Homo sapiens: one gene and its partners. The protein of the gene in region 1 purifies or fractionates together with the protein of each later gene. This does not show direct contact. Each region holds a gene or a part of one and is shown on either strand. Other genes may lie near its edges.

The links.
Region 2: the proteins of PRTN3 (region 1) and QRICH1 purify together in Homo sapiens (affinity purification with mass spectrometry; one large-scale study listed by BioGRID and IntAct). This does not show direct contact.
Region 3: the proteins of PRTN3 (region 1) and SPCS2 purify together in Homo sapiens (affinity purification with mass spectrometry; one large-scale study listed by BioGRID and IntAct). This does not show direct contact.
Region 4: the proteins of PRTN3 (region 1) and LYPLAL1 purify together in Homo sapiens (affinity purification with mass spectrometry; one large-scale study listed by BioGRID and IntAct). This does not show direct contact.
Region 5: the proteins of PRTN3 (region 1) and RAB3GAP1 purify together in Homo sapiens (affinity purification with mass spectrometry; one large-scale study listed by BioGRID and IntAct). This does not show direct contact.
Region 6: the proteins of PRTN3 (region 1) and USO1 purify together in Homo sapiens (affinity purification with mass spectrometry; one large-scale study listed by BioGRID and IntAct). This does not show direct contact.
Region 7: the proteins of PRTN3 (region 1) and POTEE purify together in Homo sapiens (affinity purification with mass spectrometry; one large-scale study listed by BioGRID and IntAct). This does not show direct contact.

The regions. Positions count from the first base shown.
Region 1 is NC_000019.10:843,450-846,663, reverse strand, and holds part of PRTN3 (myeloblastin precursor), read right to left. Parts: intron 3,204-3,214; coding exon 3,038-3,203; intron 2,772-3,037; coding exon 2,630-2,771; intron 518-2,629; coding exon 287-517; intron 1-286. UniProt on the Homo sapiens protein: Serine protease that degrades elastin, fibronectin, laminin, vitronectin, and collagen types I, III, and IV (in vitro).
Region 2 is NC_000003.12:49,045,131-49,049,506, forward strand, and holds part of QRICH1 (transcriptional regulator QRICH1), read right to left. Parts: intron 2,117-4,376; coding exon 1,939-2,116; intron 1,450-1,938; coding exon 1,295-1,449; intron 1-1,294. UniProt on the Homo sapiens protein: Transcriptional regulator that acts as a mediator of the integrated stress response (ISR) through transcriptional control of protein homeostasis under conditions of ER stress.
Region 3 is NC_000011.10:74,965,769-74,970,144, reverse strand, and holds part of SPCS2 (signal peptidase complex subunit 2), read right to left. Parts: coding exon 4,222-4,376; intron 581-4,221; coding exon 446-580; intron 1-445. UniProt on the Homo sapiens protein: Component of the signal peptidase complex (SPC) which catalyzes the cleavage of N-terminal signal sequences from nascent proteins as they are translocated into the lumen of the endoplasmic reticulum.
Region 4 is NC_000001.11:219,180,158-219,184,533, forward strand, and holds part of LYPLAL1 (lysophospholipase-like protein 1), read left to right. Parts: intron 1-4,376.
Region 5 is NC_000002.12:135,054,663-135,059,038, reverse strand, and holds part of RAB3GAP1 (rab3 GTPase-activating protein catalytic subunit), read right to left. Parts: intron 1,029-4,376; coding exon 953-1,028; intron 1-952. UniProt on the Homo sapiens protein: Catalytic subunit of the Rab3 GTPase-activating (Rab3GAP) complex composed of RAB3GAP1 and RAB3GAP2, which has GTPase-activating protein (GAP) activity towards various Rab3 subfamily members (RAB3A, RAB3B, RAB3C and RAB3D), RAB5A and RAB43, and guanine nucleotide exchange factor (GEF) activity towards RAB18.
Region 6 is NC_000004.12:75,800,578-75,804,953, reverse strand, and holds part of USO1 (general vesicular transport factor p115), read right to left. Parts: intron 4,337-4,376; coding exon 4,155-4,336; intron 3,876-4,154; coding exon 3,754-3,875; intron 821-3,753; coding exon 682-820; intron 1-681. UniProt on the Homo sapiens protein: General vesicular transport factor required for intercisternal transport in the Golgi stack; it is required for transcytotic fusion and/or subsequent binding of the vesicles to the target membrane.
Region 7 is NC_000002.12:131,261,344-131,266,462, forward strand, and holds the end of POTEE (POTE ankyrin domain family member E), read left to right. Parts: intron 1-382; coding exon 383-503; intron 504-2,011; coding exon 2,012-3,340; 3' UTR 3,341-3,935; downstream 3,936-5,119.

The DNA of each region.
Region 1 (3,214 bases):
TGGAAGGGGCCGCCGGTGAGGGCGGATGGGTCTCCCACACCTTCCTGTGGTCCTAGAGGGGAGTGGGGGGCAGGGAACCCCCAGACCCACCCAAGCAGCCAGGTGCAATGTGAGCGCCCCCACCCCGCTGAGCCTGCCCGTTGGGTGTTGGGTGTGCCCACCTTCCAGGTGGGGAGACTGAGGCACAGCATGAAGCCACACAGCTAAGAGGTGGCGTGGAACCCTGGCCGCCGCCCTCCTCCCCTCATGGCAGCCCGGTGCCCGGGGTGGGGGCACGGTTACTTACGAAGCAGATGCCGGCCTTGCGGCGAGGGACGAAAGTGCAAATGTTATGTGGCCGGCAGAAGAAGGTGACCACGGTGACATTGAGCTCCTGCAGGACCTGGGCTGGGGGGTCGTGGGCACCCACGCGGCCCCAGCCCATGGCCAGGCACTGGGTGCCGTGGGGCACTGGCTGGTCCTGCTGTGGCAGCTGGACTGTGGCGACGGAGGCACTGAGGTTGGCTGGGCTGCTCAGCTGGGGCAGAAGGCAGGCGGCGGTGAGACGCTGCTTCCAGGTCACGGTGGCCGCCCGGGCCGCCCTCCCACCACACCCACCACACCCACCACCTCAAAACGCCGCGGATGCCGCTCCCTCCGCCTGGGCCCCACGACCCCCTTTGTCCCATTTGTCACTATTGTATTCATTCATTTTCTTTCCTTCTTTCTTTCTTTTGAGATGGAGTCTTGCTCTGCCACCCAGGCTGGAATGCAGTGGCGTGATCTCGGCTCACTGGAACCTCCCGGAGCCATCCCATTGGGTGAGGTGGCCAGCCTGGTCTCAAACTCCCAACCTCAAGTGATCTGCCTTCCTCAGCCTCCGAAAGTGCTGGGATTACAAGTGTGAGCCATAGTGCCCGGCCATTCATTCATGTTTTCTTTCTTTCTTTCTTTTCTTTTTTTTTTTTTTGAGATGGAGTTTCGCTCTTGTTGCCCAGGCTAGAGTGCAGTGGCACAATCTCGGCTCACTGCAACCTCTGCCTCCTGGGTTCAAGCAATTCTGCTGCCTCAGCCTCCCAAGTAGCTGGGACTACAGACACCTGCCGTCACGCCCAGCTAATTTTTGTATTTTTAGTAGACACGGGGTTTGCCATATCGATCAGGCTGGTCTCAAACTCCTGACCTCAGGCGATCCGCCCGCCTCGGCCTCCCAAAGTGCTGGGATTACAGCCACCGCCCCTGGCCCATTCATTCATCTTCAAAGCACTTTTTTTTTGAGATGGGGTCTTGCTCTGTCGCCGAGGCTGGAGTGTGGTGGCATGATCACAGCTCACTGCAGCCTCAACCTCCTGGGCTCAAGTGATCCTCCCATCTCAGCTCATGAGTGGCTTGGCGTGTGCTACCATGCCCGGTTGATTTTTAAATTTTTCTTTTGTAGGCTGGACGCGGTGGCTCTCTCCTATAATCCCAGCACTTTGGGAGGCTGAGGAGAGCAGATCACTTGAGGTCAGGAGTTCGAGACCAGCCTGGCCAACGTGGCAAAACACCGTCTCTACTAAAAATACAAAAATTAGCCAAGCGTGTTGGTGCATGCCTGTAATCCCAGCTACTCAGGAGGCTGAGGCAGGAGAATTACTTGAACCTGGAAGGCAGAGGTGGCAGTGAGCCGAGATTGCACCACTGCACTCCAGCCTGGATGACTGAGTGAGACTCTGTCTAAAAAAAAAAAAAAAAAAAATGTCTTTTATAGAGATGGGGTCTCACTAGGTTGGTCAGGCTGCTCCCAAACTCCTGGCCTCAAGTGATCCTCCCATCCCAGCCTCCCAAAGTACTGGGAGTACAGGCGTGAGCCACAGTGCCCAGCCCCAAGCACTTACTGAGCACCACCTGTATGCCCAGTCCCGTTCTAAGCCACATGAGTCCAATAACGAACAACACAGACAAAAATCCTCTGCCCTGGGGAGCTGATCTTTCTGGGTGGGAGGAGGCTAGGAGGGCCCCATGAATGAGAGGAGCACGCGGTTCAGTGGAGAACAGTGAATCGGGGAGGGCTGTGGCTGTCCTCGCCACTTCCAGTGAGGTCAGGGGAGGCGCCGGAGGAGGCGAGGGCACCTGGCTTTCTGGGGGAACAGCACACCGGGCGGAGGCGCAGGCAGGGGAGAGGGGCAGGCAGGGGAGAGGCGCGCAGGGGAGAGGCGCGGGCGGGGGAGAGGCGCGGGCGGGGGAGAGGAGCGGCCGGGGGAGAGGCGCGGGCAGGGGAGAGGCGCGCAGGGGAGAGGCGCGGGCAGGGGAGAGGGGCGGGCAAGGGAGAGGCATGCAGGGGAGAGGCGCGGGCAGGGGAGAGGGGCGGGCAAGGGAGAGGCGCGGGCGGGGGAGAGGCGCGGGCGGGGGAGAGGCGCGGGCGGGGGAGAGGCGCGCAGGGGAGAGGCGCGGGCGGGGGAGAGGCGCGGGCGGGGGAGAGGCGGGGAGGAGGAGTGGCCTGGTGTCCAAGGAGCGGTCTCCCCCGGCCAGTGCCACTGGACCCAGGCTGCAGCGGCCTCGGTCGTGGCCCGGTATACAGTGGGTGCTCAATGAATGCTGGCTGCAGGAATGGGGGTCCCGGAGCCCTCTGGCCGTGCCCCTCCGAGCCCTCGCGGCCCTGCCCGCCCACCTGGATGAGGAGAACGTCGTTCAGTTTGTTCTCCGCGTCGTAGTTGTTCAGAAACACCTGAGCCACCGAGAAGTGCTGCTGGGTGGGCTCCTGCGTCCGCACGTTGTGGGCTCCGAGCACCACGTTCACCAGGCGCTGGGGTCTGCGGGGGTGGGGTGGTCACTCCTCGGCGCCCTGGACACTCGCCGCCGCCCACAGCCGGCCCTTCCCGAGGCCGCGGTGCAGCCCCAGACCCCTCCCTCGGCGACCCTGCCCCGGGCCTCCCCCCAGAACTGCCCACGCGCGCGGGGCCTGGGGTCTGCAGACGGGGCTTAGCTGGGTCCTCCCCGGGCAGAGGGACAGTGGCCGGGCCAGGGCTGGAGGAAGAGGGCGGGGCGGGCGGACAGGGGTGTGGAGGCGGCCGCTCACATGTCCCGCAGGCAGTGCGCGGCCGTCAGCACGAAGCTGGGGTGGATCAAGGTGCCTCCGCAGAAGTGGCTGCCCGGGTTCCCCCGCATCTGCAGGGAGGCCATGTAGGGCCGGGAGTGTGGCTGCGCCTCGTGCCCGCCCACGATCTCCGCAGCTCGGGCAGCACCTGCAGGGGGG
Region 2 (4,376 bases), on another chromosome or scaffold:
TTCACCACAGATGTCCTGAAAACCTAACTACATTGGTATATTATTCTAGCTAGACTCCTTCAAATAAGTAGTTAGTGCAGGGAACAATGAGAAGAAAACCTCTATGCTGGCACAAGACTCTGTTTTGAATAAATTACCTTCATGAAAATCAGGTTTAACAAAAAGAAAAGTGTTACATAAATGCTTTGTGAATTACAAAAAAAAAAAAAAAAAAAAAAAGTCAAGGTAATTACCAATAATGTAATAGAAGTTTAGGTAGTAGGATGAATAATGTTTGTTTTCCTATTTTATTATTTATTTTATGTATTTATTTTTTAAGAGGCAAGGTCTTGCTTTGTAGACCAGATTGAAGTGTGATGGCACAATCATAGCTGAATGCAGCCTCGCACTCCTGAGCTCAAGGGATCCTCCTGCCTCAGCCTCCCAAATAGCTGGGACTACAGGTGTGTGCCACCACACCCAGCTAATTTTTTTTCTTTTCGTTTTTCAGACAGGGTCTCACTCTGTCACCCAGGCTGGAGTGTAGTGACATAATCATGACTCACTACAGCCCCAACCTCTGGGGCTCAAGCAATCCTCCCACCTCAGCCTCCCAAGTAGCTGGGACTACAGGCATGCATTACCATACCCAGCTAATTTTTTGTAGAGATGGGGTTTCACTATGTTGCCTAGGCTGGTCTCAAACTCCTGGGGCTCAAGCGATCCTCCTGCCTTGAGCCTCCCAAAGTGCTGGGATTACAGGTGTGAGACATCTTGCCTGGCTCTTATTTTTTTTCTTTTCTTTTCTTTTTTTTTTAATTTTTGAGACAGAGTCTCGCTCTGTCACCCAGACTGGAGTAAAATGCTGTGATCTCAGCTCATTGCAACCTCTACCTCCCGGGTTCAAGCGATTCTCATGCCTCAGCCTCCCAAATAGCAGGGATTATAGGCAGTGCACCACCACACCTGGCAAATTTTTCTATTTTTAGTGGATGGGGTTTCACCATGTTGGCTGGGCTGGTCGTCTTCAACTCCTGACCTCAAGTGATCCACCTGCCTCGGCCTCCCAAAGCGCTGGGATTACAGGCGTGAGCCACCAGCGCCCGGCCCCGGCTGTTATTTTCTAAAGTGAACGTGTAGGTTTTTAAAACTTAAAAAAAAAAAAAAAACAACAAATGTGTATTTTAAAACTCACTGTATACCTGAAAGAGAACTTCCTTATTTTAACTTCTTGCTTATCAATTTATTAACTAAACTAGCAAACATCCAATAGGAACACAGCTCAAACATGTTCTTGTGAAGATCTGTTTCCTACCTTTTGAATACACAGGAAAATATAGTAGAGCACATCTGGGTCATAGGGTTCACCTTCTCCATTTCGAGCTTCCCGTGTCATTAGACAGAGCCCATAATTCAACTCTGCCACAGCAGAGGAGATGAGATCTTCCTGGAATCGCAGCAGTTGGCGCCCTGCAACGGAAGCCTCAAAAATGAATGAAGGTCCTGGGGGTCCATATCTGGAAGGCTCAGAACAGATACTGCCCATCAGGGTGCTGGGATAGAAATGCTCACTTGTATCTACTAGAATGTTTCATGCCTGTAATGTCAGAACTGGCCTATAACATGAGTATATGAGCCTAATGCCAAGAAAGAAGGGCTTGAGTGCCTATCCCTGGTTCCCATTTCCTCCCAGAAGCCACTCTGCTTAGGTCTGGTAGGGTCAACTCCTGAAACCCGTATGTCTAAAAATGCCTGGTTTTGGGCAAACCCCACATATCCTGCTTATTATGTACACAAGGTCAGTACTGCTTGTTACTAGGCTTGAATTCAACATACTATTACAGATGTTGCTCTCTTGTCCCCAAGACAGGAGACACCACTTTTCTGGCATTTTGTCCTCCTGTTACTTTAGTACCATTGCATTTTAGACACAGCCCACTCTTCTTCCAAGACACTCACTCCCAATGGGTGCCAATCTGTTCTGAGCATCCTTCTCTAGTTCAGCATTCTTGGTCTGGGCCCAGTTTTTCCATACTTCAAGCCCTTCTTCTGGCTTCAAAGAATTTGGAAGCAGAAGTTCTGGGGAAGGCTGTGGCTGTGACTGTGGTTCAACTTCAGCAACCTGGACAGTTTGAGCCTATAGGAGAGAAACCATGAAAATGTGTCAATATTGTTTTATATTAGATCCTTCTGCAAAATTGCCAGAAAAATGTTATGTATAGTTCATTTATTTAAGAAAATATTTCTCTACTCATTGCTGTCCTACTTTTAAGAAGCTTTGGAGTTCTACCTCTTGCCCCAGGGACAGCAAAAGCAGCACTGCAACTGGGCTAGTGCAGTGCTTCTCAGCCTTGGCTGCACTTTTAAATGTTTTTTTTTTTTTTTTTTTTTGAGACGGAGTTTTCCTCTTGTTGCTCAGGCTGGAGTGCAATGGCGCAATCTCAGCTCACTGCACCCTCCGCCTCCCGGGTTCAAGTGAGTCTCCTGTCTCAGCCTCCCGAGTACCTGGGTTTACAGGCATGCACCAACACGGCCAGCTAATTTTATAATTTTAGTCGAGACGGAGTTTCGCCATGTTGGTCAGGCTGGTCTTGAACTCCCAACCTCAGGTAATCTGCCCGCCTCAGTCTCCCAAAGTGCTGGGATTACAGGCGTGAACCACTGTGCCCGGTCAAATCTTTTATTTAAAAACACTAATAGCCAGACTTACCCCAGAATCTCTCTGAGGGGGAGCCAAGGTATCAATTGTTTAAAAACTCCTTGAGTAAGATTGCACCACTGCACTCCAGCCTGGTGATAGAGCGAGACTCTGTCTCGAAAAAAGAAAAAAGAAAAAACAAAACAAAACAAAAAAACTCCTCAAGTAAAAAAGTAATTCTAATGTTTGGTCACCACTGAGAACTACTGGCTCAAAGCACTGCTCCCACAGTCTTTAATGTGCAAACAAATCACTTGGGGATTTTATCAAAATGCATATTCTGATTGAAAAGGGTAGGAACTGAGACAACATTTCTTTCTTTCTTTTTTTTTTTTTTGGCGGGGAAAGAGTTTCGCTCTTGTTCTTGGATGCTGGAGTGCAATGGCAGGATCTCGGCTCACCTCAACCTCTGTCTCCCGGGTTCAAGCTATTCTCCTGCCTCAGCCTCCCAAGTAGCTAGGATTACAGGCATGTGCCACCACGCCCGGCTAATTTTGTATTTTTAGTAGAGATGGGGTTTCTCCATGTTGGTCAGGCTGGTCTTGACTCCCATCTTCAGGTGATCCGCCCTCCTCAGCCTCCCAAAGTGCTGGGACTACAGGCTTGGGCCATCGGCCGAGAGCACTGATTCTTAAACTGGGTCTCACCTTGAAATCATCTGGATTGCTTTAAAAAAAAAAAAAAAAAAAAACCCACCCTGGCCGGGTGCAGTGGCTCACACCTGTAGTCCCAGCACTTTGGGAGGCCGAGGTGGGTGGATCACGAGGTCAAGAGACTGAGACCATCCTGGCTAACACGGTGAAACCCCATCTCTACTAAAATACAAAAAAATCAGCCGGGTGTGGTGGCGGGCGCCTGTAGTCCCAGCTACTCAGGAGGCTGAGGCAGGAGAATGGCATGAATCCAGGAGGCGGAGCTTGCAGTGAGCCGAGATCGCACCACTGTACTCCAGCCTGGGTAACAGAGTGAGACTCTGTTCACAAAAAAAAAAACCAAAAAAAAAAAAAAAGAAAGAAACCTCACACTTGGGCCTTATCTCCAGCCATTGTAAGGTAGAGGCACATTGTCAGTATTTTTAAAAGCTTCCCATGTGATTTTTTTTTTTTCCCTCTGAGATGGAGTCTTGCTCTTTCGCCTAGGCTGGAGTGCAGTGGCACGATCTCGGCTCACTGCAACCTTCACCTCCCAGGTTCAAACGATTCTCCTTTCTCAGCCTCCCGAGTAGCTAGGATTACAGATATGCACCACCATGCCCAACTAATTTTTGTAGTTTTCGTAGAGACGGCTGTTATTGAACCATCTTGCTGGCTGGTATCGAACTCCTGACCTCGACTGATCTGCCCGCCTTGGCCTCCCAAAGTGCTGGGATTACAGGCATGAGCCACTGTGCCTGGCCTTCCCAGGTGATTTTAATGTCCAGCCACAGTTGAGCCATCATTTAAAGAAAAAAAAAGTGGTGAAACCCCATCTCTACTAAAAATAGAAAAATTAGCCAGGCATAGTGGCTCATGCCTGTAATCTCAGCTACTTGGGAGGCTGCAGCATAAGAATCACTTGAACCCAGGAGACGGAGGTTACAGTGAGCTGAGACAGTGCCACTGCACTCCAGCCTGGGTGACACAGAAAGATTCTGGCTCAAAAAATAAAAATAAAAAAGTGAATGTTTGAATAATGTTAAAATATTTCCAACTTTTTAAAA
Region 3 (4,376 bases), on another chromosome or scaffold:
AGTTATACCTGACACTGGTCAGAAACAGACTCTAGATTGTGCTTTTTTTGAGTTGCCCAGTGCACTGCTCCAGATATTCTTGATTGTATTCGTGGAGAGAAGACAGGATCATAGAAGACACAGAAGCTAATGGAATTCTTCAAAGATAACTGATCTCACATCTTTGGCCTTTATACTTTTGTATGCTTAATCGTCTCTGTTAACTGGCCACAGGAAAAAGTACCTTCTCCCACAGTTTATCCTCAGAGCATTTCTGTGATAACGCAATCTCAGAACTATAGGGCTAGGACAAACCTTCTAGATCATCCATACTCCTTTCTTCATTTTATATGACTAGCCCTATGATCCACATAGAGTAGGCACATAATAAGTCTTCTGTTGATAATGACAACATGCCAGGGCAAATCCAACACCAGGATTTAAAAATCTGTGAGGATAGTCATACCTTTTAAGACTGGAGGACAGCTGCCAAATATCATCAGGATCCATTCCTGTAGGATCTTTCCTGTGGGCCACGAGAAAGATGCTCTTCTCCTTATATGAGGTATAAATGGTCAGAATCCCCATCATCACAAAATAGGTTCAAATAAAGTTAAGGGGAAAATACCCAAACATAAAAGAGAAGTAACACAAATTGACAAGCAACAGATATAAAAACTTTCATAATGATAGTCCTAAAGAAGACAGCTTTGTCTTGCTGCCAAAACACTGAAAATTTAGCTATTTCATTTTCATCCTTATGTTTATATACCAAGAGAAGCAAGGCTCTCTCTGGTTAATTCTGCAAACACCTCAGAAAGGAAGAAAAGAAAAAGATACAGAGCATAAACTAGCTCTCATCTTTATGTTCAAAGACAACATGTATAATAAGATACCTAGTTTGTCAAGACTTTGTTATAATAGTGCTTATTTCTTTATAAAAAACAACGAATAGTCCCAGTGGACTTGACCATGTTCAACTGATTTTAAGGGTTATTAAGAGAAGAAAAGTGACCCAAATAGTTTACTATAAGAGAGTATGTCAAATAGTACTACGATTACTTCCTATATGCATATAGACTTATTATTATATTGTTTTTGACAGTATTAAGTACCATAGTTAATAAGCACTTATAGTTTGCCAAAAACTGGCATAAGAGCTTTGTGTATACTGTGCCATTTAAATTTCATAAACAAGGCTGGGCACGATGGCTCACACCTTTAATACCAGCACTCTGGGAGGCCGAGGCAGGTGGATTGCTTGAGACCTGGAGTTTGAAACCAGCCTGGCCAACAAGGAACAATGGGAGACCCCATTTCTACTAAAAATACAAAAATTAAGGCTAGGCGTGGTGGCTCACACCTGTAATCCCAGCACTTTGGGAGGCTGAGGTGGGCAGATCACTTGAGGTCAGGAGTTCGAGATGAGCCTGGCCAACATGGTGAAACCCCATGTCTCTACCAAAAATACAAAAATTAGCTGGGCATGGTGGTACATGCCTGTAGTCCTGCTACTCAGGAGGCTGAGGCATGAGAATGGCTTGAACCCAGGAAGCAGAGGTTGCAGGGTTGCAGTGAGCCGAGATCGTGCCACTGTGCTCCAGCCTGTGTGACACAGCAAGACTCTGTCTCAAAAAAAAAAAAAAACAAAAAAAACCCACAAAAACCAAAAAAAAATTAGCTGGATGTAGTGGTGCAGGCCCGTAATCCCAGCTACTTGTGTGGCTGAGGCAGGAGAATCACTTGAACCTGGGAGGCAGAGGCTATAGTGAGGCAAGATCGTGCCACTGCACTCCAGCCTGGGCAACAGAGTGAGACCCTGTATCAAAAAATAAAAATAAAATAAATAAAATAAAAATAAATTTCATGAACAGTGCTCGCTTCGGCAGCACATATACTAAAATTAGAACGATACAGAGGTTAGCATGGCCCTAGCACAAGGATGACAGGCAAATTCATGAAGCATTCCATTAAAGAAGAGTTAAAAAATAGATAAATTTCATGAACAGGAAAGGCAGGAAAATATAGTACAAAGTATATGGACTTTAGAGTAGAGATAATCCTAGATTTAAATCTTGGCCTTTAATCAGTATGATTGTAACAAATAACTTCCTTCCCCAAGTCTTAGTATCCTTACCTTTAAAATTGGGATAATACTGATGTTTTAGAATTATCATGAGATTTAGAGATGAAGGATATATGCAGTCTAGGATACAGAAGACTTTTTTTTTTGAGACAGGGTCTCACTCTGTCACCCAGGCTAGAGTACAGTGGCATGATCTCAGCTCACTGCAGCCTCAACATCCCAGGCTCAAGCAATCCTCCCATCTCAGCTTCCTCAGTAGCTGGGATTATAGGTGTGTGCCACTACACCCAGCTAATTTATTTTTTATTTTATCTAATTAATTTATTTATTTTGAGACAGAGTCTTGCTCTATCGCCCAGGCTGGAGTGCAGTAGCAGATCTCGGCTCACTGTGACTTCCGCCCCCTGGATTCAAGTGATTCTTGTGCCTCAGCCTCCCAACTATCTGGGACTACAGGCATGCGCCACCATGCCCAGCTAATTTTTGTATTTTTAGTAGTGACAGATTTCTCCAAGTTGCTCAGGCTGGCCTTGAACTCTTGGGCTCAAGTGATTCGCCCGCCTTGGCCTCTCAAAGTGTTGGGATTACAGGCATGAGCCACGATGCCCAGCAACAGAAGACATTTATAATGGTAGTCCCTACATTATAAATAAAACTGACATGACAAAAATAAGACCTTGTTTTATTAAACAAATATAACCAAACAAATGAATTACCATCAAGGTAGTTCTCTTGGGAGGCCAGATATTTGTAATAATGTTGCTATCATTTTCAAATCTCTTTGGAATTCCCCTGGGAACTGTCTCTAGAACCTATGGAATATTATTCTTCTGAACTGCCTTAATAGTGAAAAATTCATACTGGGATGATTAATCTGATTACTGAAAGGAGTCAAGGATCACCTGGTGCCACTTCTGGGGGAAATGTGGGGCAATCTGGATAATACAATTTTTGACTAGGATCTGCTTTATCAGAGGTTTGCTAACTGCCTCTGAAGATAAATCCCCAACATGAAGTTTTAAAACATATTTCAGGTTGGCTGGGCACAGTGGCTTATGCCTGTAATCCCAGCACTTTGGGAGGATTGCTTGGGCCCAGGAGTTTTGAGACCAGCCTAGGCAACGTAGTAGGACCTTGTCTCTGTAAAAAATTTAAAAATTAGGCAGACATGGTGGCATGTGCCCGTCTACTCAGGAGGTTGAGGTGGGAGAATTGCTCGAGCCAGGAGGCTGACGCTGCAGTGAGTCATGATCACACCACTGTACTTCAGCCTGGGTGACACGGTAAGACCCTGTCTCAAAAAAAAGAAAACAAAACAAAATTTAGGTAGTGGTAACATTGTTTAAAAAAGTAAACTACCAACCAAAATTACCTATTTTAATAGTGAAGTATAATTAAGTTCTTTATATTCAACTTCTTGAGAAAAAAAATCACGCTGGGTAGGCAACGACCATGATCTTACATTTATCATAAAAAAGAGGGGAAAGGAAATGATTATGTATCAAATACAATATAAAATCTCTCATTTAATCTTTATGATAATTCTGAATGCTACCCATATTTATAAATGAGTGGTATTCAAATCATCTCAAAAATAAGTAAATTTTCATTAGCACAAGATCACAGATACCTTGGATTTCAAACCCATATTCTCTAGCTCCAGAATAAGTTCTTAATTCCACTGTAATACAAGCCACACTTGTATCTCATGCTCAGTACTTTCCAGTTCAGCTCCTCAGCTTCAAGTAAACTTAATACAGATCTGAGTCTCCAAAATCAGATCCTTTCCTAATATCCTAGAATGAGTGGCTTGAAGCAGCCACGTCTAACGGGAAAAGTTCTGGGCTAGAAATGAGAAGAGCTGGGTTCACTATTACTATGTGTTTTGCTATTAAGTGCTCATATTAGGACAATAACCTCTACATTAATAACAAAAATGAATTACGATAAAATAACCATACAAAACATAAAATATCAGTGACAGTTACTATATAAACTGATAGATATTTACTATATAAACATCACAGCTCAAAATGTTGAATTCTAACATTAGCAAGCCCTAATATGAAAGTCCGTTTTGTTTTTTGTAGGGAGAAATATCAGCAGATTTAAAAAAATAGTCACTAGAAAACAACCTGAGCATAAATAAAGGATATGATATGACACACAAAGCCAAAACGGGTTTGGACTCTGGAAAGGGGTGCATATAATCCCAAATCAAAGCCACTATGGCAAAGAAACAGGAGATTGTACAGATGGTGAGGCGACCATCAATTAGACCAAAATTCTCCACATATTTGTATTTTTCCAG
Region 4 (4,376 bases), on another chromosome or scaffold:
AGCTAATTTTAAAGACAAGGTTTTGCCATGTTGGCTAGGCTGGTCTGGAACTGTTGACCTGAGGTGATCCACTCACCGCGGCCTCCCAAAAGTGCTGGAATTACAGGCATGAGGCACTGCACCTGGCCTGTTCTTGATTTTTTTCTTATCAGGCATACTATGCAAATGCCTTGCTTTATATTTTCATTAACTTAGTATTAAGGAGAAATAAAACCAGAACTTCAAGGACGTTTTTATATGTACTAATAAGAATTTACTTACTTTAATTGATAGAATTGAAAAAGGGAGAACAAAATGATAATGTAAGACTGAAGACTCAAAGGAGTTATTATTTAAATGTAATTTTAATAGAGTTTAAAAGTTTGGTAATCTAGTTAAAAGACCCAATCACCAGTGGTTATTTTTGTGCTATAAATTGCATGTCTTTGAAAATGTCAAAAAAGCTTCTTGTTACTGATTTTTAGGATAGTTGAAGTTGGAAGGAAGAAACATAGTGGTATTTCTGCAGGGATGAAAGATAAGTTCATTTCTACCTAAATATAAATACAATTGTCTGATTAATCATAAGACCACTGAAAACCTTATTCTAGGAATTAATATTTTTTATCTTAAGAATTTCATGTCATTACCAATTGTGATAGGAATTCTAGGCAGTATTTCTCAAACTTTAGGCCAGAGTTATTTCAGAAAATCCAAAAATCTCCATGTGCACTAAGCATTATTTGTGGGTGCTGTTGTGATTTAGTAAAATATGAAATCATTGGACCAGCTTCATGGTAACTTTTTGTTACACAGTTTTATAACCAATAGCTATTTGAACAGATCATCGAACGTTTTAGACCATACTCACCAATAGAAATGTAATATGAGCTACATATAAATTTAAATGTTCTTGATACCACATTATAAAAAGGAAGAAATACGTAAGATTGATTTTAATAATATATTTTATTTAACCCAGTATATTCAAAATATTCAACATGTAATCGGTATAAAATTATTAAAGTGATATTTTATATTTTTTACACTAAATTTTTGAAAATTGGCATGTTTTACATGTACGACACATCTTACTTCTGATGCTAAATAATTACACTGAAATTAAATAGTAGTAAAAATTAGGTTCCTCAAGTTGCCCTGGCTACATTTACGTGCTTCATAACCTTATGTGGTTAGGGGCTGCCATTTTCTACAGCTTAGTTTTAGAACTTAAAGAGGAGTTCCCATATACAGTAGATTGGGAGCCACTGTTCTAGATCAAGTCATCATTTTTACTTATTGGTTTGCTCAAGTTTTCACTTATTAGTAGCAAAACATAGAAGATTTCCAACACATTACTTTAAATATTAAATTATTTAATTGCAATAGAAAATGAAACTGGCATAAACAAATTTGAGAACAAACATAGTTGACTCTTAATAAGCATAAAAAGCATAAGGCTCAGTTTGTGGGAGCAAAAGTGTGAGGGTGTGCAAGAATGAAGCCTCTTGATCTGGACCATTTGGTCTTCCATGGGCGTTAGATATAGGAATACATGGCTTTGGTTAATACTATGAGGCAATTCAGTGGAGGTCAGTTAAGAGAGATGATATCATACTTAGTATATTATAATTAGCTGATTTTTTTCCTACCTTATGCTGGACTAATTTTCTAGAGCAGTTTATATGATACTTACTTCTGTATCCCTACAGACACTGAGGGATACTGTATCTCTAAGCACTTAGCATAGAACCTGACAAATAGATGTTTAGTGAAGATTGAATAAATATCTTGCAGTATTTGCTTGTTGTTGTTATTTAAAATAGTGTAATAGGAATGAGTAATTGTGGGTATTTATATATAATACTAATATTTTAATTGTGTAATAGTTTATGCCTATGTGAGGTTTTAAAAAGTGTATTTTGTTGTGGTAAATAACCTAAGAATTGTTGTTCATAAGGGGTTGCAATTACTTGTCCTAAGACTTGACCCTGCAATAGATTGAGTGAGCACCAGATTATGGGCCAGTTTTAACTAATGAGTCTCAAATTGAGGAGCACTGCGGTATCATTAAGCCTGTAGCTTTTAACTGGTTTCCAGACTTCAGAATGCTGTTTGATAGTATTTTATTAGAATGCTCTGGCATTCATGGTGTACTTTGCTGTTTTAAGACTTCTGACTGGTGTTCCTAACACATTACCCTGTTTAGGCAAGCAGTTTGGGCATAGATTTATTGTCGTTGCTTTTGTAGCATAATATGGCTTCATTTGCGGTTTTAAGGATAGTTGCTACCTTCCATCTATTATGGCAATGTTTCTTGTGCTGCTAATAAGAGAGATTCTGGTGTCATCTACCTTGCTTGCTACCTTTCCGGTGACGTCAAAAGGAGGCATGTGATAGATACGTGCCTTCCTTAACTCTCACTCTTTTTAATGTGATTGGTACAGGATAAAAATGAATTTTAATAACCTTTTTAAAAATTTATCAAGGTTTCATGCTTTAACATGTTGCTACATACTTTCTGATATTGTCCACATTTCTGGTATTTATTCTCTCTCCTGATTTTTTTCTTTCACCACTTGTAAACCCATAAGTTTTTCTGTACTATGGATATTTCATTGACTATGTTATTCCTATAAGGTATATTGAAGATATCACTTGGCTTGTAAAATCATTCCATTGATGGCATGTAAATGATATTCAGGGTTTACCTGCCTGTTAGTTGGCCAGTTTTGTCCTAGAATGTATCTAATCTCTTGTTACATGGAAGTGATGCTTACTATTATGTGGCTTTACCCAAGCCAGTATTTATAGAAATGAGTGAAAATGAAATGTATAAAAGCAGGTTAAGCTTTATTAACTTTGGTACACTATGCCAAGCATATTTCCAGAGAGGCTGTAACAATTGACAGCCTCACCAGCAGTATTCAAGATTCCCATTTGTCTCACATCCTCCTGAACACTTTCCATTGTCTTTTTAATTTTAGCCAAACCAGTAGATGTGTAATGGTATCCTATTGTGATTTTTATTAATATTTCTTTAATACTAATGATGTTGCACACTGTTTTATGTGCTTATTGAGCATTTAAATATCCTCAAAAGAAATGCCCACTCAGATTATTTGCCCATTCTTTTATTTGGTCATCTTTTTCTATTGATTTGTTGGAGTTCTGTAGTTTTTTGGATACAGTTTATTATTGTTGTTGGATATATGAATACAAATACCTTCTCTTTGTGGTTTGCATTTTCACATTCTTAATGACATCTTGTGGACATAAGTTCTAACATGTTTCTTTAAAATTTACAGTGAAATACAGAAATTGTATGTGCATAGTTAATTTTGATAAATTATAGTACAGAGAATTTTGGTAAAATTATGCACCTATTTACCTCAATTAAGTTGGAGAATATTCTCATCACCCCAGAAAGTTTCCTTGTGCTTCTTTCAAGTCAACTCCCATCTCATGTATTATTGTTTGCATATCTATTACTGTAGCATAGTTTGGCTTGTTCTTGAATTTCAGTTAAATTGAGTCACTTAATGAGTGACTTAATGGAATCTTGTGTCTGGCTTCTTTTATTCAAATTGGTATTTTTGGGATTCATCTATATGTGTGTATCAATAGTTCAATTTTTAAAATTCTAAGTAGGTATTATATAAATATAACACAGTTTGTTTATTTATCTACTGTTGTTGCACGTTTGGATCATTTCCAGTTTTGAGATCTAATGAATAATGCTACCATAAATATTCTTGTTACACGTCTTTTTGTGAGCATAATTTGAATTCTTATCTAGACTCTATTCCATTGGTCTAATCTTATAGTAGTACAAAATTGTTGTAATTATCACAGCTGTATAGAAAATTTTGAAACCAAGTGGTGTAAGTTTTGCTCATTCTATGTTACTTGCATTTACGTGTAAATTTTAGAACCTGCTCTTCAATTTTACAAAACACCTGTTTGGATTTTGATTGAAATTGCATGGAATCTAGTTTGATTTAGAGAAAATAGATGCCTTCTAATACATACACATGGTATGTCTCACCATTTACTTAGGTCTTTATTAATTTCTCTCAGAAGTGATTCGGAGTTTTTAGTGTAGAAGTCTTTTGCTAAATTTATCTACAAGTATTCTGTTTCTTCATGTTATTGTAAATGGAATGTTAAAAAACTTAATTTTCAAATTGTTGCTAGTACAGAGAAATAAATTTTAGTTTTTTATTATGTCCTTGTATCCTTCTATCTTTCTAAATTCACTTATTTCTAGTACTTACTTAGTATATTCCTTATGAATTTCGTGTGTGCATTTTATTTCATTGTCTTGCTTTTTTGGACTTGTTTGAACTTCCAGTACAATGTTAAATAGAAGTGAGTACTTCCTTCCTGTGTAATCT
Region 5 (4,376 bases), on another chromosome or scaffold:
CCATGTTGCCTGGCTTCCTAATGCATTTTGACAGTCTCTTTTTTGATAGTATCACCATCACAAAGCTGAAAACCCCTAGCAAATATTGAGAACTCAAAGTTCCTAACACAGGGTAAATTATAATTAAATTACTATTGAATTAATAATTACTGAGTTAATAAGTTATCACTGAGTTAGTAATATTGAGTTGTAATAAAACCAACCATAAATTTTATTTCAAAAGAATTTATCTAACAAACTAAGCATCTACATAAACTTAAAATCAAATTGTTAGATCCCTTCACAGTGAATCCAGGTTTGTTCTCAGAGTACATTCTTCAGTAAACATTTGGGGTGTGGTTTATGAATAAAACTACCAATACTTTAGATTAGAATTTGATTTCTACCTCAATTTCAAAGAGTAATTTTTTCATTCTTAAATAAAATCCTTAAAACATCCATAAGTTAAAAAGCTTAAAAGGGAAGGGGGATGTTATTAGTGATATTATAAAATACAAAAACTGAGTGAAATAGTTGTTAACTACAGTAAGTCAATGGTAAGTACTAGAATTTTCCTCATTAGTAAGCAAAATATGCTACCAAAGAAGATGGTCACTGCAATGTTTCTCTGACCAAATAAAAAACTTTTAAAAACATGTTTTAACATTCCAAGGGAGAAGGCAAAAGAGAAGCAAACTTCACTCACAAAGAATCACTCACAAAGAATGACATTTTATATATATATATATACACACACACATATATATAACTTTATTAAACATTTCACAAATGTCTTACATATATCATTTGCCACAGATTTAAATCCAAATTCTTCCAAATGCTATTTGATGTTTATAGATTATACGTAACTTTAAAAAACATTTAATTCAAATGTGCCAAATGCAGCAAAGGGCTGGAAAATAGAGGTTTCAAAGTAAATAGTCATTTAGAGACACCAGCAAATAGATCTGACCTTTTCGAGTGGCTTTCCCAAAGAGTTTCCAATCAGTTTCCAGTCATTCAAGACTTCTTCAACTTTGGAAATAAACCTAGGAAGTAGGGAGAAAGCTTCTAAATACAACAGCACACCTTTTTTCCTATTATTATGTAATTTCTTTAAAAAGGTATTTTTTATATTTTAACAATTTGACCAGAGAGGACTCAGTACATTTAGTATTGCTAGCTTAATTTATGGATATGGGGTAAGAGAAATAATCTTCTTTCATTCAAGAATTCTTAGGTTTTGATTCATTTATATCTATTGCTTACCCAACAAAAGCATTCTGCCTTCTATAAAATGTAAATTAAGAATTGATGAATCTCTAATAAAACGAATAAAACAAATTTGGGGCACAAATAAAAACTGACAGACTAAAATGATACTATTAAAGATAATTATGGGCTGGGTGCAGTGGCTCATGCCTGTAATTCCAGCCCTTTGAATTCCTAACCCTGAGGTTGGGAGTTCAAGACCAGCCCAGCACAAATACAAAAAAAATTAGCCCGGTGTGGTGGCACACATCTGTAATCCCAGCTACGCAGGAGGCTGAGGCACAAAAATCACATAGAAGCGGACGTTGCAGTGAGCGGACATCGCGCCACTGCACGCCAGCCTGGGCGACAGAGTGAGATTCCATCTCAAAAATAAATAAATAAATAAAATTATGAAACCAATCATCTCTCTCCTACCCACAATAACTGACCTATTTAAATAAACTTTTCCTTTAAATATATTAGGAATTCCGATTTACCCCCCCAGCCCCCAACAAAAAAAGAAAATATTATTTGGTAACTTGGTTCATGAAACTAAAACAAGTTTTAATGGACAGCTGACAAGAAATTGCAAGTAAATATGTCAACTTTAAGTATAAGTGACAGGTCTTAAAACTAGTCACCAATCTTTAAATCCAATGGTCAAGAAGGCCTATTAAAAAGAGAACTGAATTTTGAGTAGCAACATGCTCAACATCAGTAAATGAAAACTGTCAAGTCTCAGTCAAAGACATTTTCAGAAGAATTATTCTTACTCTAAGTTGACTTCTTATATAAGCTAAGTATGATGCAATCTAACAGCAACATTGCTCTCTAAACACCTGGAAGTACTGCTAGAGTACTAGAGTTAATTCTAGTCAAACTGTATGGAAAGGCAACAGATTTTTTCCTTCAGTGACATTATGAACTAATATGAACTAATAATTATGTTTTAAGATAGTAATAATAAATCTATGATTCATCTGAGGCTTCTTACTAATTCCTCTTTAAAATTAAATGCAGTATCAATTCATACACTAATTCATGGGGGAGGTCAGTCAAATGACAATTACTAGGTTTGAAAATCAGTGCTCTAGAAACAAGTTTACATGTTTACCAAAGAGGAAAAATTTAATATATCCACAGGCAAGCAAAAATTTGCATGAAATGTATACTATATTTACGAAGCTAAAAAAACTGGAAGTTACCTTAATGCCCAACTGCAGGAAATACTTGTAAATTAATCCACTCAGAGGACTAATATGCACCCAATAAAAATCATGTCAATCAAAAGAAAATATACAAAGGCCAGGCACAGCGGCTCACGCGTGTAATCCCAGCACTTTGGGAGCTGAGGCGGGTGGATCACGAGGTCAGGAGTTCAAGACCAGTTTGTCCAAGATGGTGAAACCCCGTCTCTACTGAAAATACAACAAAAATTAGCCAGGCGCGGTGGCAGGCACCTGTAATCCCAGCTACTCAGGAGGCTGATGCAGGAGAATTGGTTGAACCCAGGTGGCAGAGGTTGCAGTGAGCCAAGACTGCACCACTGCACCCCAGCCTGGGCAACAGAGTGAGACTCTGTCTCAAAATAAAAAAGAAAAGAAAAAGAAAAAGAAATATTAATATTTGATCCAAAAAAGTTTTTAACACACGTTAGAAGGAAATATGTCGGCCGGGCGTGGTGGCTCATGCCTGTAATCCCAGCACTTTGGGAGGCCGAGGCGGGCGGATCATGAGGTCAGGAGATCGAGACCATCCTGGCTAACACAGTGAAACCCCGCCACTACTAAAAATACAAAAAATTAGCCGGGCGTGGTGGCGGGCACCTGTAGTCCCAGCTACTTGGGAGGCTGAGGCAGGAGAATGGCGTAAACCTGGGAGGCAGAGCTTGCAGTGAGCCGAGATCGCGCCACTGCACTCCAGCCTGGGCGACAGAGCGAGACTCCGTCTCAAAAAAAGAAAAAAAAAGGAAATATGTCAAAAAATTAACAGCAGTTATTTCCTGGTGTTAAGTTTACAGGTGATTTTTATTTTTTATTCTACTATAAGGTATTACTATTATAGTGAAAACTATTTAAAATATAGTTTTTACAGTAAAAGAAGAAATGTCTTTTTTTTTTTTTTTTTGAGACAGGGTCTCAACTCTGTCACCCAGGCTGGAATGCAGTGGTGTAATCACAGCTCACTGCAGTTCTGTCCTCCAGGACTCAAGCAATCCTCCCATCTCAGCCTCCTGACTAGCTGGGACTACAGGTGCACATCACCATGCCCAGCTAGCTTTTGTATTTTTAGTAGAGACAAGGTTTCGCCATGCTGCCCCAGCTCCTCTTGAACTCCTGAGCTCAAGTGATCTGCCTGCCTCAGCCTCTCTAAGTGCTGGGATTACAGGCATGAGCCACCATGCCCGGCCAGGAATGTCTTAAAATACTTATTGTATGAATAATGAATTCTATCAGTACTAGCTAAGAGACTTGGACTTTATCCTACAAGTATTGAGATTTGACTAGAAAAACTAAGTAATTTTTTCCTTAAAAGCTCTCAGGAAATGAAGGGTCATTTCCTGATTCCTTATTCTATATTAGGTCCCTCTGTTATAGGCTCTTATAAGACCAGGTTTCTTTCCCTTTCTAGCTCTTACATAAACTCATAATTACAGACTTGTATTACTTGATTTGTGTCTGTAATGCACTAGACTGCACATTTAGTAAAAGCAGAAACCGTACCTGTTTTACTAACCACCACATCCCTAAATCCGTAATGTGCACTGTGCTTGACATATGGGGATTCAATAAATATTGTCAATGAACAAATGATAAAAAGAGTTATGGGCTTCTATACAGTTCTCTCAATAAATTATCTATATAGTTCATAACATATTGTACTCACAAGATCTTTCATTTAAAATTAAACTCAAGGTTTGAGACTTCAAAGTCTTAACATTTTCTCTCATGAATTGTAAAATGCACACTACAGTGTAAAAGCCAAAAACCAAATTTTCTACTTTGCAATAGTTCTTATAACGGTGTTAATAATTATTTCCATATGCAAAGCTAAAGGACTTAATATTCCACTTCAGGATATTTTTAACTAGGGGAAAGTGATCATTTTTCCATTCAAAACTGATGTTTCCCTACCCCACCCTC
Region 6 (4,376 bases), on another chromosome or scaffold:
GGGAGAAAAAACAGCACAGCCTTGACTAAACTGCATGGTCTGGTGATCTATGATTAAGAATTACAGTAATTTTAATTCCAATTCTGTCAACTGAATATGAGAAAATAAAATCCTTTTAAAAAATCTTCACAAGCACCGTAGGATAATACTATTTAAAAGCAGTGGAGCTCTTGCCATTTTCCAGGCACAACTTAAATTTTTCATTTATTATATCATTTAGTTCTCAAATGTTATTACTATCTTCATTTTGCAGAAGAGGAAACTGAAAGATTACAGCGGTCATTCTTAATCAGCTATACATTAGAATCACCTGGTGGGCTTATACTAGTTACTGATCCCTGGACCTAATCCCAGATTTATTAAATCAGAAACACTATTGTGGTATCAGCATTGGTATTTTTTTTTAAAAAAGCATCTCAGGAGATTCTAATATGCAGCCAGGGTTGAGAATCAATGGGCCAGATAAACAGGTAGCAAGAAGCTTGGACTTCAATCTCTAAAGGTCCAGTCTTAACTGCTCTTAACTATCATGCTATTTTGCTTTAAACTCCGATTTACATTTTTGTCACCATGATTAAGGTTAGAAAAATACTAGTCCACAGAAAGAATCTTTTACTTTGTCTAGCTCTTGAGGAAAGAATGACCTGAGTGCTATCATAGTGATGGCTTAGCTATGCTTACCTAGCTGTATTTTAAGAAGATTATACTGGTCTTTGTGCTGCTGGATCTGTGATACTTGCTGTGTGACTGCCGTCTGGAGCTGTTCATTTTGACATTTTAATGTAGAAACCTGCTGCCTTAATTCCTCAAGTTGGAGATCCTGTGAAACAAAACATAATTCATGTGTTTTAAAGTCATACTCGTTAGCATTAAGAAGGTGAACACATTTTAAAAATTAGAGGTCATTTTGGGACAGTATGCTAAAGTGCTTAACACTTCCAAAATCGTTCAGTAATTAAGCAACTTGGTGTGTTAATATATCCATCAAGGCCAATTAACATGCAGCAGAACTACAAGATTTCAAAGAAGGCTCCATTAATAAACATCATGGCATAGCCTGCAATTATAGTGGGAAATAAAATGAAAAAACTCCATTTTATGGTCATAAAACCATTTAAAAATTTACATCAAACTATTTAAGAAATTTAGTATATGTATGTATACATATGCTTCTATATTATTTTTAATATTAAAAGCCAATGAGAAAATAAATATAGGAAATTGAAAAAAGAGCTTCCAACTTTTACCATCATAATAAAACTATAGTTGGAATTTGATGTATTTTTTTTCTTTTTTTTTTTTTTGAGACGGAGTTTCGCTCTTATCGCCCAGGCTGGAGTGCAGTGGTGCAATCCAGCTCACTGCAACCTCTGCCTCCAAGGTTCAAGCAATTCTCCTGCGTCAGCCTCCTGAGTAGCTGGGATTACAGGCGCCCGCTGCCATGCCCAGCTAATGTTTTTGTATTTTTAGTAGAGATGGGGTTTCACCATGTTGGCCAGGCTGGTCTCAAACTCCTGACCTCAGGTGATCCACCGGTCTCAGCCTCCCAAAGTGCTGGGATTACAGGCGTGAGCCACCGTGCCCGGCCAGAATTTTATGTATTTCTTTATTTTCTTCTAATTTTTTCCCAATCCATGGTTTAAAATTTGTCACAATAGGTATATATATATAATTATGTAGCCTTTAATTTACTTAACATTCTATCATAATTTCCCCATATTGCTACATAGTTTTCAAACCATAATTTTTAATCCTATCTAATTAAGTAGATGCAATACAATTTATATTCAATGTTTTTGATGCTAAGGTTGCTTTCCATTTTTTTTCTTTTCTTTCTTTCTTTTTTTCTTGGGTTTTTTTTTTTTTGAGACAGAGTTTCGCTCTTGTTGCCCAGGCTGGAGTGCAATGGTGCGATCTCGGCTCACTGTAACCTCCGCCTCCCAGGTTGTTCAAGCGATTCTCCTACCTCATCCTCCTGAGTAGCTGGGATTATAGGCATGTGCCACCATCCCCAGCTAATTTTTTGTATTTTTAGTAGAGACAGGGTTTCTCCATGTTGGTCAGATTGGTCTCGAACTCCCGACCTCAGGTAATCTGCCCACCTTGGCCTCCCAAAGTGCTGGGATTACAGGCATGAGGCACCGTGCTCAGCCACTGCACTCCAGCCTGGGCAACAAGAGCGAAACTGTCTCAAAAAAAAAAAAAAAAAAAAAAAAAGAAAAGAAAAAGAAAAATGGAAAGCAACCTCAGCATCAAAAACACTGAATATAAATTGTATTGCATCTACTTAATATTGCTTTCCATTTTTCAAAGTGACAAATTTCATTACATTATATATTTTAGTCCATATAATTGTTTTCCTGAATTTTGGAGAATTCCCTTAGGATGAATTATCAAATGTCATTCAAAGGATATAAACATTTTATAGTTCTAGATGCTTGTGGACTAATGCCAAATAGCATTTTAAATGGTAAGAATATTTAAAATGAACATTTCTAAGGAAGTCATTAGAGTAATTGTGTCAATCACTCTTTTCTTTTGCCAAATCAACTGTATTTGCAGCCCCAAGTATAGACTCTATATCACATTACAACTATTTGTTTTTTTCACTGTTCCAAAGATATTATTACATTTTAGCAACTGGAAATGGCTCCATCTTTGTACCCAGATATAGATGAAAAATCCTAATAACCATAGGTAGTTTGATGATTCAAATTTTACCATTCTAAGATTATAATTTATTGATTGATTTACTTTTAAACTGAAAAGCTTAGAATGAATGCTAAATATACCACAATATTTTCATTCTTTCTTAAAATTTTAATCTCAGTAGGCTGGGCGCGCTGGCTTATGCCTATAATCCCAGCATTTCGGAAGGCTGAGGCAGGGAAGGGAAGGGATCACCCGAGGTCAGGAGATCAACACCAGCCAACATGGTGAAACCTCATCTCTACTAAAAATATAAAAATTAGGCAGCGTGGTGGCACACGCCTATAATCCCAGCTACTTGCGAGGCTGAGGCAAGAGAATTGCTTGAACCTGGGAGGCGGAGGTTGCAGTGAGCCGAGACTGCGCCACTGCACTCCAGCCTGGGAAACAAGAGCAAGACTCTGTCTAAACAAAAAACAAACTAATCTCAGTAATGTAGATTGTGAGGAAGAAAATAAGATATAAACAGTTGTCAATTTAAAGGGTTCTATCTATGCTTTTACTTGCCACACCTGCCATAAACTGTGCACAATTAGTAGACAGGTGTGGAGAGCAGTAGAGGGAAGGGGATGAATCTGTCCCACAGGGTCTGCCACTATTGTATTTTTTTATGACACTGGAATTTTAACAACATTAATAACCTCATTTTTCAGCACTTTCTAGAATTCCAATCAAGGTAAATATCATAAGAAATTAAATGAGAGTAAAAGTCAAGAAAACATTTTGAAGGAATATAATGAAGGTTTAGGGTACTCAACACAATGCAAGTAATGAAAGTTCACTGGTATCCTGGAAAGAAAATGTCAACTGATGATTCCGCAATTGTAGTTTCATCTTTATCCACTCATCATTATCTAATAAATCAGCTGCATGGTGCTTAGCACATATTAAGCACTCTGTTTGTTGAATACTCAGATGCTTTGAAAAATGATGGGTTTTGCTTTCTATATCCTCTTTCATTTGAAATGTCAGAAAAAAAGGCTCCCTTAAAGCAGAAAGTGCCTATTGGTAATCAGAGGGTATATACAGTTCATTAGTACTTACCTGCTCTCGAATCATATTTTTGTAGTGAGTCACAATATTGTCATGCTGTTCTAATGTTTTTTTCACCTCTTCTTCTTTTTTATCTTCTTCACTGGACTTATAAATAGCCTTAGTTATAACACCTATAAAAGGAAGCTTATTTAAAATTTGTTTTAAATGTTTTAAATACTATTTTACTACTAAGACTTAGTAAAAACATATAACCTAACTCCATGATAGGTAAGAAATAATCTTTTCAATCCTACTGAAAGCCAAATGTCCTTCAATGGGCTACAGATCAAGAGCTAGGAAGAAAATATACCTTTAGAGTTACCATATAACCTGTATGCATCCAGAATATACATGTACAATATAAATATAATTACTTTCCATCAAATATCAATATAAATCTTCAGTCTTACCTTCAAGTTCTTTTACCAGCTTCGTAAACTCATGATCAAATATCATGTATTCTGGACTGGGAAAGTTTGGCTGGGGTTTCTGAGATGCTCTGGAATACAACTCATGTTTGCTAATAAATCCTAGTTTCTCTATGAAATTCTCTTTGCCAATCCTCTTCTCAATCAGTTGTTTTAGCTTCTCTCTACGGAGATAAGCATATTGAGATGCTTTAAAAAAAATAA
Region 7 (5,119 bases), on another chromosome or scaffold:
CTTCCGTCACCCCCAAATGGGACCATCTAGTTGCAGGAAAACAAGCTCAGGGCTCCCACTGATTCTACATTTTGGTGAGATATAATTATTTCATTATATATTAATAATAATAGAAATAAAGTGCACAATGAATGTAATATACTTGAATCATCCTGGAACCATCCCCCACCTCAGGTTCCTGTAAACATTATCTTCCACAAAACCAGTCCCTGGTGCCAGCATGGTTGGGGACACCTGGTTAACAGATGTGAGACCCCTTTGCCTTGTCTTGGAATAATGTGCAGATATGCATTGTGTGAATGACATCTGATGGCGCCATCTTGCCCTGTACATCATTTTAGGGACAGCTCCAGTATTTCATGAAAATTAAAATTTCTTCTAGTGACGAACAAAATGATACTCAGAAGCAATTTTGTGAAGAACAGAACACTGGAATATTACACGATGAGATTCTGATTCATGAAGAAAAGCAGATAGAAGTGGTTGAAAAAATGAATTCTGAGGTATTTTCTTTAGTTATTTTCAAATGTTTTTATATGTGTGTATATTTTAAAGAACTGTATTTTGGAAATATAAAGGATTTTTAAGTCATATATATGTGTGTATATATTCTATATATCCTTTGTCATATATCTATATACGTACGTATAGGATAAAGCCATGTTCTTAATTCACCTTCATTTGCCTGCAACAGTTGAGTAGTGACCTGCACAATGGCCTCAATCCAAAGGAGAAGTATTTGATGTTTTTCATAAGAATTGATGATCTTTCCACATCAGAAATAAGTTTTGCTACTGAAAACAGATTTTCTCGTTTTTGGACATTAGTTTTTTAAAAAATGTTAATAGAGAAGTCAATTGATTATTTTTACTGATAAGAAAGTAGGAAATGTATAGCTGGGTCAGAGGCCACATTGTGGATACCATTATCCTTACTTTTGCAGAGAGGAACAGTTTGCTCCAAGTAGTTTCTCATTTCAGTGTAAAGAGGTTTGAAAACAATGACATGCCATGATACACATTTAGTAATAATTTATTGATAAGTATTTTGTTTCTGGAGAAATAGTTCAGTATATTTCCCCTATTTCACCATTACTACTGTTTCAAACATTATAAAGAGGAAATAAAAGTTACCGCAATGGCAAATAATCTCATGATTTCTAAGAAGATCTCTATAAGTTGTATCTTATTTACCATTCATATTTTGAAACAAAAGGTTTCTTTTGTATTTATATATTTACACCACAGAAGTAAGTGTGGTTTTGTGGAGGATCACTAGAAGTAGCATCAGCAGACCTGGGGAAAATCCTGCATCTGTGTATATTTTTTGACCTCTCCTTTTAAGAATCGCGATCTTAAATGAGTTCAGTATTATATGTAGAAGAGCAATGCCTAGATACAGATGTGTACAGTGTAGAAGGGTACAGTGCTTAGATTTGACAGTTATAAATAAATGTAATTCTTATAACTGAGTATAGAAATATTAGAAATGTAGAATATCGGTAAAACGTTCTTCAGTAAAAGAAACTTAAAGAACTTTGAGAAATTGCTTCTGTCCAAATATATGCATAGCTAAGGCTCTTAGGATGGTGTGGTTGATAGGTTAGATATCAGAGTGTAAACCTAATCTTAAAAATGTAGTCAAATTATTAATCTTATATTTTATGCCTCTGGGTTTTTTGTAACTCAGAAAAAGGCTTTTTTAATTCTGGGATTCTTAAAAATCCTCTAGTGATTTATTTTTCATCGTCTTTAAATAAATATTTAAACTTTTAGGAATTTAGGAGCAGATTCCTAAAAGTTTAAATATTTATTTAAAGACGATGAAAAATAAATCACTGGAGGAATTTACACTCTTATTAGGTTTGAAGTTTTGTCCAATTTTTTTCCAGTTAAATATCCACTATGGGGATTCTTTCATTATACAAATACATGTTATTTTTGAATTTCAGAAGAAATCATGATATGTCAATCTATTGAGTGCTAACTAAAAGTTCTCTTTGTTTACTTAGCTTTCTCTTAGTTGTAAGAAAGAAAAAGACGTCTTGCATGAAAATAGTACGTTGCGGGAAGAAATTGCCATGCTAAGACTGGAGCTAGACACAATGAAACATCAGAGCCAGCTAAGAGAAAAGAAATATTTGGAGGATATTGAAAGTGTGAAAAAAAAGAATGATAATCTTTTAAAGGCTCTACAATTGAATGAGCTCACCATGGATGATGATACCGCCGTGCTCGTCATTGACAACGGCTCTGGCATGTGCAAGGCCGGCTTTGCGGGCGACGATGCCCCCCGGGCTGTCTTCCCTTCCATCGTGGGGCGCCCCAGGCAGCAGGGCATGATGGGGGGCATGCATCAGAAAGAGTCCTATGTGGGCAAGGAGGCCCAGAGCAAGAGAGGCATCCTGACCCTGAAGTACCCCATGGAACACGGCATCATCACCAACTGGGATGACATGGAGAAGATCTGGCACCACACCTTCTACAACGAGCTGCGTGTGGCTCCCGAGGAGCACCCCATCCTGCTGACCGAGGCCCCCCTGAACCCCAAGGCCAACCGCGAGAAGATGACCCAGATCATGTTTGAGACCTTCAACACCCCAGCCATGTACGTGGCCATCCAGGCCGTGCCGTCCCTGTACACCTCTGGCCGTACTACTGGCATCGTGATGGACTCTGGTGACGGGGTCACCCACACTGTGCCCATCTATGAGGGGAATGCCCTCCCCCATGCCACCCTGCGCCTAGACCTGGCTGGGCGGGAACTGCCTGACTACCTCATGAAGATCCTCACCGAGCGTGGCTATAGGTTCACCACCATGGCCGAGCGGGAAATCGTGCGTGACATCAAAGAGAAGCTGTGCTATGTTGCCCTGGACTTCGAGCAGGAGATGGCCACGGCGGCCTCCAGCTCCTCCCTAGAGAAGAGCTACGAGCTGCCCGATGGCCAGGTCATCACCATCGGCAACGAGCGGTTCCGCTGCCCCGAGGCGCTCTTCCAGCCTTGCTTCCTGGGCATGGAATCCTGTGGCATCCATGAAACTACCTTCAACTCCATCATGAAGTCTGATGTGGACATCCGCAAAGACCTGTACACCAACACAGTGCTGTCTGGCGGCACCACCATGTACCCTGGCATGGCCCACAGAATGCAGAAGGAGATCGCTGCCCTGGCGCCTAGCATGATGAAGATCAGGATCATTGCTCCTCCCAAGCGCAAGTACTCCGTGTGGGTCGGTGGCTCCATCCTGGCCTCGCTGTCCACCTTCCAGCAGATGTGGATCAGCAAGCAGGAGTATGATGAGTCAGGCCCCTCCATTGTCCACCGCAAATGCTTCTAGGTGGACTCTGACTTAGTTGCGTTACACCCTTTCTTGACAAAACCAAACTTCTCAGAAAACAACATGAGATTGGCATGGCTTTATTTGTTTTCTTGTTTCATTTTTTGTTTTGTTTTTTATTGGCTTGACTCAGGATTTAAAAACCGGAATGGTGAAGGTGACAGCAGTCGGTTGGAGGAAGCTTCCTCCAAAGTTCTACAATGTTGCCAAGGACTTTGATTGTACATTGTTCTTCTTTTCAATAGTCATTCCAAATATTGTGAGACGCATTGTTTCAGGAAGCCCCTTGCCCTGCTAAAAGCCATCCCACTTCTCTCTAAGGAGAATGGCCCAGTCCTCTCCCTAGTTCACACAGGGGAGGTGATAGCATTGCTTTTGTGCAAATTACATAATGCAAAATTTTTTGAATCTTCGCCTTAATACTTTTTAATTTTGTTTTATTTTGAATGATCAGCCTTCGTGGCCCCCCTCTTTTGTACCCCAACTTGGGGTGTATGAAGGCTTTTGGTCTCCCTGAGAGTGGCTGGAGGCAGCCAGGGCTTACCTGTACTCTGACTTGAGGAGAGTTGGATAAAAGTGCACACCTTAAAAAAAATTGAGGAAGCACAGTATTTCAGTACAGTGGACAGCTTAGCATGTTGACAACTGAGAATAAAATGCTCAGTTCTGAACTGGACAATGTAAGACACAACGAGGAAACACTGGAAATGGAAATTCAATTACGTCATTGTAGACTGGCTGCTGCTCTACATGATTGTGACCAAAGTCAGATAGCTGAAAGAGACTTCTTTCCAGAGAACAAGACATGAACAGGTTTATTTACAGAAGACAATGAATTCTCATTTATCTCACCTAAAAGAGAACAGATTCTTTCTCAACAAGTCTAATGTAGACAGTAAAATCAACAGGCTAAAAATTAAGCTCCACGAAACAAGATAAAACTCTGAGAGAAAAGACGGGGCAGGCCGCCATCTTTCCCGTTCAGGCAACTTAGTCATTCCAGCCTGCGGGCTTTGGAGAGTACAAACCGACGAGGGACAGAAGAGATCCCACAGCACAGCATAGCTGCTTTACCAAATCATGGCCAGACTGCTTCTGTAAGCAGGCCCCTGATCCTGTTCCACCTCACTGGACAGGACCTCCCAACTGGGGCCTCCAGCTACCCCCACCAGCATTCCTTGGCCAATGGAAATGTGAAATGTTCCTGGGACAGAGCTCCCGGAGAGGGGCAGGCCCCCACCTTTGCTCTTTTGGTGACTAGCCATTCTGGCCTGCGGGCTTTGGAGAGCCCAAGCTGACAAGGGGTGGAAGAGGTACCTCAGCACAGCACAGCCACGCTACAAAAACGTGGCCAGACTCTTGTTTACGTCAGTCCCTGACCACATTTCTAGTCAGCGGGTGAAGTCTTTCAACCAGGGTCTCTGGCTACCTTGACTGCTGTTCTCTGGCCGACAGAGGTCTCAGGCCTCCCTGAGTCAGAGCTCCCAGGGGGAGGACCAGATTGTCATCTTTGCTGTTTGGGTGACCCAGCCATTTCAGCCTTAGGGCTTCAGAGTGTCTGAGGTGGACCAGGGGCTGAAGTGAACCCCCAGCACAGCACAGCTGCTCTATAAAAACGTGGCCAGACTTTTTTTTTTGAAGCAAGTCCCTGTTCTTGTTCGTCCTGACTAGGTAAGACTTCTCAACTTGCCTCCAGCCACATCTTATAGGTGTGTTCAGATTGGCAACAGGTTCGTACCTCAGTGGTACAGAGCTTCCAGAGGAAGGGGCAGACTATCA